Linked DNA regions of Homo sapiens. The protein of the gene in region 1 interacts with the protein of each later gene in a pairwise test. Each region holds a gene or a part of one and is shown in the gene's direction. Other genes may lie near its edges. The genes, in order: TMEM52B, ZDHHC15 and SEC22A.

Region 1 (3,755 bases):
TACGTACAGGGCACTCATGATAGAAATATCCTATTCAAAATGCTTTCCTGTCTCTTATTTTATTTTCTCTAGGAAATAACATCTAAAGCAGGTCAAGTGGGTATTCTGCTCCTGTTGTATGAATGGGAACGTTAAGGACTGGAGGAATTACATAATAATTTAGTGGAAGGCCACCTAAAGCCCTGCTCTCCTTGTCCTATAAAATACCTTCCACCTTGCCAAGTCTTCTACTGAAATCTGGAAATCACCCTTCATCCTAACCCCAGTTGCCTAATTTAAAAAAATAAAAAATAAAAGACTGTCAGTGCTCATTTCGTCTTGAAACTGACAGATTTTAAATCACCAGTATGGTACCAGGCCATTTTCTCATTATTTGTTTTCCTTAGCTGAGAACAAAACCAGTTTATATCCTGCATTCTCATATCCCATCATCAAGCTATGTGTGAGGACCCTTAGAGTATGATCAGCTCACCCAAGAGTCTCCCTTCCACAATCACTCAGCATAATTAGATTTACTGAGCTAGAAAGGTCCTGAAAGGAGGTTTTATTCAATTCTTATGAGATAGATATATCACTGTAAACTAACTTCTACTTTTCTTATCCCAGCCTGGCCAATATGGTAAAACCTTGTCTCTACTGAAAATAGAAAAGTTAGCTGGGTGTCGTGGCAGGTGTCTATAATCCCAGCTACTCAGGAGGCTGAGGCAGGAGAATTGCTTGAACCCAGGAGGCAGAGGTTGCAGTGAGCCGAGATTGCACCACTGCCCTCCAGCCTGGTGACAGAGAGACTCTGTCTCAAATAATAATAATAATAATAATAATAATAATAATAATAATAATAATAATTTTTTTATTAAACATTTGGTATTAAGTAAAAGATCACCTACTTAAGTATAAATCATTCATACAGCATTCTTTTGTTTCTTTTAATATTTTGCTTTTTTGAGGCAGATTCTCGCTCTATCACCCAGGCTGGAGTGCAGTGGTGTGATCTCGGCTCACTGCAACTTCTGCCTTCCGGGTTCAAGTGGCCCTCCTGCTTCAGCCTCCCAAGTAGTTGGGATTACAGGTGCCTGCCATGACACACAGCTAATTTTTGTATGTTTCGTAGAGAAAGGGTTTCATCATGTTCTCCAGGCTGGTCTCAAACTCCTGGCCGAAGTTATCAGCCCGCCTTGGCCTCCCAAAGTGCTGGGATTACAGGCATGAGCCATGGCACCCGGCCACATTTGTGTCTATAGCTTTGTTTCATTGTAAGTATTCTAGGCCAGGCACGGTGGCTCACGCCTGTAATCCCAGCACTTTGGGAGGCCGAGTCGGGCGGATCATGAGGTCAGGAGATCGAGACCATTCTGGTTAACATGGTGAAACCCCGTCTCGTCTCTACTAAAAATACAAAAAAACTTAGCCGGGCGTGGTGGTGGGCGCCAGTATTCCCAGCTACTCGGGAGGCTGAGGCAGGAGAATGGCATGAACCCAGGAGGCAGAGTTTGCAGTGAGCCGAGATTGCGCCACTGCACTCCAGCCTGGGTGACAGAGCAAGACTCCGTCTCAAAAAAAAAAAAAAAAAAAGTATTCTATGCTTTTGCATGTGTGCTTGTTTTTACTCTAACCTTAGGTTTTATTTTCCTGAGTGACAAGACTTATTTCTCAATCACATCACTCCTTAACCAAAGAGAGAGAGAGAGAGAGAAAGAGAGAGAAAGAAGGAACAAAGAAAAGGCAAGAAAGAAAGAAACCTATACATTTGCTTTTTTAAAATTTGGTTTTAAAAAAATGTCTTTCTCAGTTATCTATTTCAATGGGAAGTGAAGTCAGGGAGGAGGAAGATGTCACTGATAACACCTGAAAATTCTAATCTTCCGACTTGATTTCTCATCTTCAAGTCTGTTTTCTCCAAAGATGAGATGGCTTTCCTGTTCACTTGGCAACCTCTCAGTCTTACCCCAATGCTTAGGGATATAAATGACCCAGAACCAGGAGAGTTGATTATCAACATAGTGAAGGGGAGGGTTTCAAAGAGCAAGAAGGGGTTGTTAGTCACACGGAGAGAGAAGAAAGGAGATTAGCAGGGTGACTTTCACCCTGCAACAGTCACGCTGGAGTACTCTGGTGAAGGATCAAGAATATTACCAGTTTTCTGATGAAGAAAGGAATATATTTGGTCACCAGCAATCTGCCTTTGACCATCCTCAAAGCCAAGTTTTTCATCGCTGTCTAGAAAAATACTTCATTCAGAGGACACATATGTCCTCTTTGAATGTCTCCTTTTTGGGAGCAGTAGGAGAAAGAAACTTCAAGATGTAGAAAGAATTAATAGTGTAACGGAAAGAAAGAAGGCAAAAGGAAGTAAATGTGGAGGCCATAGAAATAGTAATAAGAATAAAGAAGAAAAACAGGAAAGAAGAGGGAAAAGCCATAGAAAATAACAGCCAGAGCGAGTAGGAGGAGACAGAGAGAACGAGAGAGAGAAAAGCTGATAAATTCCTGAGAAAAGTTTCTCTTCTTAAGAATTCTAGGTCAAGAAGTAAAATATGGCACAGAGCATTGAAAGGAGGCAACGGATGCCCAGTGCAAGATTCTGAAGAAGCAGGAATTCAGCCCGATGGGAGTCCGAGTTCATGTCGTGGCGGCCTCAGCCCTGCTGTATTTCATCCTGGTGAGTTCAGTGGTGAAAAGGCAGAAAGAGTATTTTTCCCCAGATTAATCAACTCTCAGAAGAGTCTGAAAGGAAATGAACTGCGGGGTGGGGAGACATATACAGAACCCAGGGGGTCATAGGGAAATGAATAAACTACAAAGTTTCCTTAGTATTACGAGATTGCATAGATGCATGTGTGACTGATGGCAATGACAATGAAAAGGGGGACAGAAATTAGAGTGAGCATGGAAACGAGCAGGATTGCCGTGGCACTTTAGAAGTGCCGCTGAAGTATTTTATCTCTTTTAGCATCTTATCACCCATCCCTCAAAATTCCAAACAAATTATGAAAACTAGGTGTGTAATTCCCCTAAACGGAATTTCCCATCCAGGAATTTCTAATCCTGTTCTAGCAGTTTAGGTGCCTCTAGTCTAGAAATAAGAGAGGCAGGGCTCTTTTAAAATATTTTGGGCCCCACAATGAATCAGAAGTCTCTGAGTAATCCATTAGTGGAGAAAAGGGTCACTGGACTGAGGGATTCTAAACAATTGTCACAGGGAAGTTTATAGAGCTATGCCATCTAGCAAGAAGGAGAGCAAATGAAGAAAACTGGATAGTCTCAGATTCCCGTATGGCCCCCGTACAGAGTGGGCTGTATGGTTTGTTTTTTTTTTTTTTTTGCTAATAGAACAGTTAAAGTGGTATCTGAAAATCCATTTTTTCTTATATTTTCTTTTTGCTTCCTCTTCACTCCCTTTGCCTTGTCTTCCCTTCATTTTTCCTTTCTTTTCTCTTTGCAACAAGCCTGAAAAGTAGCATTTTCTCTGCTGAGCACTTTAGGCTTCTCTTACCTTTAGTGAAGAAAGTGAAAGAAAGTACCATGGTTGCGTAGAGGAAACACACGCTTTTTCATCGTTAGTGGCCATTTCTTTCCAATGAAAACACAAACACGGGTTTCTCAAATGTTACCTGCAAAGGCTGGCCATTAATCCTTTTACAGATCCTTTCCAACTGATAGGTCTTGAGAATGTGTGTCTCCTTACCCCTTCACTACCCGCCATAAACTCCCAATAGTTACAAATCTGTTTCTTTTCTAGGGCCTTTGTGGTTGCT
Region 2 (3,755 bases), on another chromosome or scaffold:
TGGCCAAACTTAAAACCCAGGCAGTATGTTGCCACAGTCTCCTCTAAACTAATGCAGAGGTAAAAACTTTGTGACATACAAGCCAGATGTAGCCTTCAGATATATTTTGCCTGGCCTGCACAGTGTTTTCTTAACATTTTGCATCAGTTCCCATTATTTAAAAGTCAGGAGAATAAGGCAGCTTTGACTTTCAACTCTGGCTGAACCAGTCCCTCCTGCCATCATCAGTTTAACAATCTTGTAACAAATTAGCAACCTGGGTTTTGGAAAGGTTAAATCAAATTTTCCTAAGGCCACACATTTAGTAATAGTGAAGAGTTGGAAATCCAGGCTGCCTGATACCAAGGCCATACCTTTTCCAACACAAATAAATTAACAAATTTGCATTTCAATATGTCTCAAAAAGTAACATTAAGGACCTAACTTCTTTCCAGGGATAAAACCTGATGTCTTTCTCCCTAACGTTACATTAGAGCTGAAACCAAAAGAGATGTTTTTGTCCTTTAATTCTTAGAGTTTGAATTCTGCCATTTACTAGCCTGGAGACCTGGGGCAAGTAACTTCACTCTCTCAACCTCAGTTGTCTCACATGTACCTTGCTTCTACAGTTGTTCATCCATATGACAAATGGTTGCTTAGCACTCAGTATATGCCAGGTATTACTGCTGTGAGGCTCAAATAACATGATGCCTGAAAAGCATGCATCACAGTTCACAACACATTATAAGAGCTCATTAGATAGTAACTTGTGATTAGTAAAGAAATAAAGGATTCTTCCTGACCCAGGAAAATAAGAAGCTTAGCTTTTTAGAGAGGAGGGAAAGTAACAGTATCCATTTTATTGGGGTGAAATTTATATAACATAAAATTAACCATTTTTAAGTGTTCGCCTCAGTGCCATTTAGCACTCACAATGTTGTGCAGCCATCACCTCTATGTAGTTCCAAAATGTTTTTGTTATCCCATAAAGAAACCTCATAAGCATTAAGCAGTCACTCCCTGTTCCCTCTTCCCCCAAGTCCTAGCCAATTATTAATCTGCATTCTGTCTCTATGGATTTACCTATTATGGATGTTCCATATAAATAGAATCATAAAATATGTGTTCTTTTGTGTCTGACTTCTTCCAATTAACAAAATGTTTTTGAAATTGGTCCACATTATATTATGTAACAGTAATTTATCCCTTTTAATGGCTGAATAATAGTCTATTGTGTGTGTGTGTGTGTGTGTGTGTGTGTGTGTGTGTGTGTATATATATATATATATATATATATATATATATATATACCAGTTTGTTATCCATTCATCCATTAATGGCCATTTGGGCTATTTCTACCTTTTGTCTCTTCTGAATAGTGCTGTTACAAACATTCATGTATTTGTTTGAATATCTGTCTTCAATTATTTTGAGTATATACACCAGGGAGATGGATGGGGATAATTGGACTGTATGGTAATTCTATGTTTAACTTTCTGAGGAACCTCCAAACTATCTTCCGCAGTGACTGCACCATTTTACATTCCCATCAAGCAGCACAGAAGGGTTCCAATTTGTCCACATTCTCACCAAGACTTGTTATTTTCAGTTTTATTTTTATTATAGCCATCTTACTGGGTGTGAAGGGGTATCTCATTATGGATTTGATTTGTATTTCCATAATGAAAAAAATATTGAGTATCTTTTTATGTACTTGTTTGCCATCCATATATCTTCTTTGGGAAAATGTCTATTCAAGCCATTGTCCATTTTTTAAATGGGATTTTTAAATTGGGTTGTCTTTTTGTTGTTGAATTTTAATATTTTTTGCATGTTCTGAATACTTGATCTTTATCAGATACGTTATTTGCAAACATTTTCCCCCATACTTGATAGTATCATTTTATACACAAAGATTTTTAATTTTAATAAAATTCAATTTATCTATTTTTTCTTTTGTTGCCTATGCTTTTGGTGTCATATTTAAGAATCCATTACCAAATGCAAGAGCATAAAGATTTACCCCTGTGGGATTTTTTTGTTTGGTTGGTTGGTTGGTTGGTTTTGGTTTTTTGTTTGTTTGTTTGTTTTTTGTTTTTTTTTGTTTTTGTTTTTGATACGGGACCTCACTATGTTGCCCAGGCTGATCTCAAACTCCTGGGCTCAAGTGATCCTCCCACCTTAGCCTCTCAAATAGCTGGGGCTACAGGCGTGTGCCCTGTGTTTTCTTATAATAATTTTATACTTTTAGCTCTCACCTTTAGGTATTTTAGCCATTCTGAGTTAATTTTTTATATCTGGCATAAGATACGAGTCCAGCTTTTTTTTAAAATTTTATTATTATTATACTTTAAGTTTTAGGGTACGTGTGCACAACATGCAGGTTTGTTACATATGTATACATGTGCCATGTTGGTGTGCTGCACCCATTAACTCCTCATTTAACCTTAGGTATTTCTCCTAATGCTATCCCTCCCCCCTCCCCCCACCCCACGACAGGCCCCCGTGTGTGATGTTCCCCACCATGTGTCCAAGTGTTCTCATTGTTCAATTCGCACCTATGACTGAGAACATGCAGTGTTTGGTTTTCTGTCCTTGCGATAGTTTGCTGAGAATGATGGTTTCCAGCTTCATCCATGTCCCTACAAAGGACATGAACTCATCCTTTTTTATGGATGCATAGTATTCCATGGTGTATATGTGCCACATTTTCTTAATCCAGTCTATCATTGATGGGCATTTGGGTTGGTTCCAAGTCTTTGCTATTGTGAATAGTGCCGCAATAAACATACTTGTGCATGTGTCTTTATAGTAACATGATTTATAATCCTTTGGGTATATTCCCAGTAATGGGATCTCTGGGTCAATTAGTATTTCTAGTTCTAGATCCTTGAGGAATCACCACACTGTCTGCCACAATGGTTGAACTAGTTTACACTCCCACCAACAGTATAAAAGTGTTCCTATTTCTCCACATCTTCTCCAGCACCTGTTGTTTCCTGACTTTTTAATGATCGCCATTCTAACTGGTGTGAGATGGTATCTCATTGTGGTTTTGATTTGCATTTCTCTGATGGCCAGTGATGATGAGCATTTTTTCATGTATCTTTTGGCTGCATAAATGTCTTCTTTTGAGAAATGTCTGTTCATATCCTTTGCCCACTTTTTGATGGAGTTGTTTGATTTTTTCTTGTAAATTTGTTTGAGTTCTTTGTAGATTCTGGATATTAGCCCTTTGTCAGATGTGTAGATTGTAAAAATTTTCTCCCATTCTGTAGGTTGCCTGTTCACTCTGATGGTAGTTTCTTTTGCTGTGCAGAAGCTCTTTAGTTTAATTAGATCCCATTTGTCTATTTTGGCTTTTCTTGCCATTACTTTTGGTGTTTTAGTCATGAGGTCCTTGCCCATGCCTATGTCCTGAATCGTATTGCCTGGGTTTTCTTGTAGGGTTTTTAAGGTTTTAGGTCTAACATTTAAGTCTTTAATCCATCTTGAATTAATTTTTGTATAAGGTGTAAGGAAGGGATCCAGTTTCAGCTTTCTACATCTGGCTAGCCAGTTTTCCCAGCACCATTTATTAAATAGGGAATCCTTTCCCCATTTCTTGTTTTTGTCAGGTTTGACAAAGAGCAGATGGTTATAGATATGTGGTATTATTTCTGAGGGCTCTGTTCTGTTCCATTGGTCTATATATCTTTTTTGGTACCAGTACTATACTGTTTTGGTTACTGTAGCCTTGTAGTATAGTTTGAAGTCAGGTAGCATGATGCCTCCAG
Region 3 (3,755 bases), on another chromosome or scaffold:
AAAACTCCTAAATCTTCCCATGCAATTGTTGTAATCTCTTGCTTTCCACAGTTCCACTGGTTCTTCCTTGGGATTTTCCCAACCACAACCCTCCTTAAGACCTTAAAGATACTTTAACCTAGCTTAGGCCTGACATGGACAGATTTCCTTTTCTGCTAGCACAGTCCAGATAAGATTAGTTTAAAAAAAAACAAACTATATTATGAATCCGTGGTAAAAAGAAAAAAAGTAGGGGTATGTTTATTGAATTGATGGAGAGACAGCTTAGCCTAAGGTGGTTGGAATCTGTCTACAAATTAGTTAAGCCTGACGTTGATCATTGGACATTCATCCCCGTTTGTCAGGCTTAAATTCAAGTGCTTTGGATGCTGAATCAAATTACTGTGGTAGAAAGAGGTTTAATTTTTTCCCTAAGAAAAATCTTATCTATGGATAAGTAGAAACCATTCTCTGACAACCTTGTAATAATTTTGACAGGGAATGTAACTACTGTGTTCTGCTTTTGGTTAAAGGCTAAAGTACATATTAGGAAAATTTGAGGCTGGGCGCAGTGGCTCACACCTGTAATCCCAGCACTTTGTGAGGCCGACGCAGGTGGATCACTTGAGGTCAGAATTTGAGACCAGCCTGGCCAACACAGTTAAGCCCCATCTCTACTAAAAATACAAAAATTAGCCAGGCATGGTGGCGGGCACCTGTAATCCCAGCTACTTGGCAGGATGAGGCAGGGGAATCGCTTGAACCTGGGAGGCAGAGGTTGCAGTGAGCCATTGCACTCCAGCCTGGGCAACAGAGTGAGACCCTGTTTCAAAACAAAACAAAACAAAACAAAAAAACAACAAAAAAAGGAGTATTTGAAATGTAAGTTTGTCCAACTTTAGTTTTCCAGTTAGTGAAGTGGTGGGCAACACACCTGCATTGTTTGCTCTTTTCAACTGAGTTTCTCTAATTGAGGAGTGATGTTTCTTGATGGTAGGACTCTTCATTCCTGCTATCTGGCATAATTCATGGGACACATTAGATATTCAGTAAATGTTTGGTAAACGAATGGAACTTACAAATTGTATTCTTTTTACAGTATGTGTTTTAGAAAGCATGGATCATATATTTATTGATCTGTCCTCCAAGTCACTAAAGAATAACTTTGAAGACTACATGAAATTTGGCAACCTATTAATGAAGTCTATTCATAATATTTCTATTAGGATCCTAGAGAGGCCAGACATAAAATAATACAGTCTACTTTTATTTTACTTTTTGAGACAGGATCTCTCTCATCACCCAGGTTGGACTGCAGTGGCACAATCATAGCTCACCATTGCCTTGAACTCCTGGGCCTGCTTCAGCCTCCCCAAAGCAAGTACTATAGGCGTGTGCCACCATGCCCAGCTGATTTTTAATTTTTTTTATAGAGACAGAGCCTCACCATGTTTCTAGGTTGGTCTTGAACTCCTGGCCTCAAGCAGTGTTGGGATTATGGGTATAAGCCATGGCACCCCATCCAATCTGCTTTTAAATACTAAAATGTGGGTATTTAGAACTGCAAGTTACAACTCACCCTCAAATTAATTCCCAGAATGGTTATTGTGTTGCAGTGTACTTCTGGAAAGACAACAGTTTTATAGTTAAATAATAAACGCTTAAGGGGATAGAGTAAGACATTTTCCTACTTTCTTACACTTAGGCTAAATGTTACAATTGTGATTTAATAATTAAGTAAAACATGGTAAAAAAAAAATTAAAGAGGGGTTTATAGTATAGATATCTCTTCAGGGATCCCAACTTTTTCATGCTACTGCTTTTAGGAGAGAAAAAAACTAGATGAATGGAAAAAAACACCAATTGGGATATGTCACACTGGGACTTCAGTTTGAAGACTCCACTGTAGTAAAAAGACTAATTTGCTTCTGGATATTTTTCTCTTTAAATGAATGGAGAGGCTGGGCGTGGTAGCTCATGCCTGTAATCCTAGTACTTTGGGAGGCTGAGGTGGACAGATCACTTCAGGCCAGGAGTTTGAGACCAGCCTGGCCAACATGGCGAAACCTCATCTCTACTGAAAATACAAAAATGAGCTGGGTGTTGTGGCGCATGCCTGTAATCCTAGCTACTCGCGAGGCTGAGGCATGAGAATTGCTTGAATCTGGGAGGTGGAGGTTGCAGTGAACTGAGATCGCACCACTACACTCGTCTGGGTGACACAGTGAGACCCTGTCTCTGAAGGAGAAAAATATTAAAGGGTAATGACACAGTAACACCTAGAGATTTCTCCTTTTTCCTCATGAAAAGAGGAAAAAGGGATAGTGAACTTAATGCATTAGATTTATTAGTTGGGTTAATTTTTATTGTCAGATCAGTTATCACCATGAATGGGAAGTCATATTTTGACTTCACACAGCAGTGAAAACTATCAGCTCCTGATTTACAAGCTTTGTAACAACTGGTTTTCTGTGGTATTTTTTTTTATATATATTACTCATTTTTTCCTTTTTGGAATGAGATAATATTGACCTAGATTAAGTGGGCAGGTAAGGATTAATTTAGTCTCTAAGATACAATATTTTTGGAAAAATGCCTGTGAGATTTTTATCAGATTTTTGAATTTTCACCAGTTGCCTCACCACTAGTGAGGAAGCCTTTAGTGACATTGTGCTTTGATGGCCTGACAGAGAAGAGTTATCACTTAATCTTAGATAGTGAACATGTTTTAATTTAATGTTTTAAAAAGTATGGGCCTTAGACAATAAGCAAATTGTCAAGCCCTATCCCACAGTCAGTGGTTCAGAATTTTGAGGGCAGAGCTCAGAAATCTGCATTTTTAACTAAACTTTCAACTTCTTATGCAAGCTAAAGTTTGAGAGCCACTGTGTATTTTATGAAAGGTTGAGTGACTGTTGACCTGAGTTCCTTCAGACTCAGGCCTGTGAAGTCCTTTCATCTGTTTTTGTAAAGCAAGAAGAGAATCCAATAAAATAGGCCATTAAGATTTACTTTCTGGTAAAAAGATTGAGAACAACATTAAAACCAATATTCCTTTAGCTTTAGGATTTATTTTAAATAATTTTTTTCTGATTATAAAAGTAGTATATGTCTACTGTGAATATTGAGAACATTTAGGAAATTATAAAATAATAATAACCAATAATACCATTTCTTAGAGGTGAGCATATTCTTAATTTGGCATCTTTTTCTGCATCCGTTTTTCAATCCCTTTTTCCTTCTCTTTATCTTCGTCTCTTTATCCTTATGTTTGTGTAAAACAACATTTGCAATTTTTATCCTACTTTTTTCTCCTTAACATGTAAGCATTTTACCACATTATTAAACTTTCTCCACAAACATAACTTTTAGTTGCTGCATTATATTCTGTTATATGAATATACTATAATTTACTTAACCATCACCATTTTATAGGATATTTAGATTGCTTTCAGTTATTTGAGTGGAAGAATGTCTTTCTGTTTAAAATTTTGCCTGGATTTCTGATTATTTTTCTCAAGACAGGTATATATTTAAATTTATTGAGGTTAAAAGGTATGCCTTCAGACTCTTGTTGAAATTGCCAAATCATTTTGAGAACTGTTTGTACCAGTTTTTACTTCCATCTGTACTTATGAGAATGCCAGACAGAAGTATTATTTTTTAAAAAGCTAATGTGGCTGGGTGTGGTGGCTCATGCCTGTAATCCCAGCACTGTGGCAGGCGCCTATAGTCCCAGCCACATCCTATGCTGTGGCATGGGAACCCAGGCTGAG

The links.
Region 2: the proteins of TMEM52B (region 1) and ZDHHC15 interact in binary tests that used the Homo sapiens proteins (3 or more experiments, as listed by UniProt).
Region 3: the proteins of TMEM52B (region 1) and SEC22A interact in binary tests that used the Homo sapiens proteins (3 or more experiments, as listed by UniProt).

What each region holds. Positions count from the first base shown.
Region 1 is NC_000012.12:10,176,970-10,180,724, forward strand, and holds the start of TMEM52B (transmembrane protein 52B isoform 2 precursor), read left to right. Parts: upstream 1-2,062; 5' UTR 2,063-2,605; coding exon 2,606-2,659; intron 2,660-3,755.
Region 2 is NC_000023.11:75,516,304-75,520,058, reverse strand, and holds part of ZDHHC15 (palmitoyltransferase ZDHHC15), read left to right. Parts: intron 1-3,755. UniProt on the Homo sapiens protein: Palmitoyltransferase that catalyzes the addition of palmitate onto various protein substrates.
Region 3 is NC_000003.12:123,204,868-123,208,622, forward strand, and holds part of SEC22A (vesicle-trafficking protein SEC22a), read left to right. Parts: intron 1-1,433; exon of another isoform or gene 1,434-2,240; intron 2,241-3,755. UniProt on the Homo sapiens protein: May be involved in vesicle transport between the ER and the Golgi complex.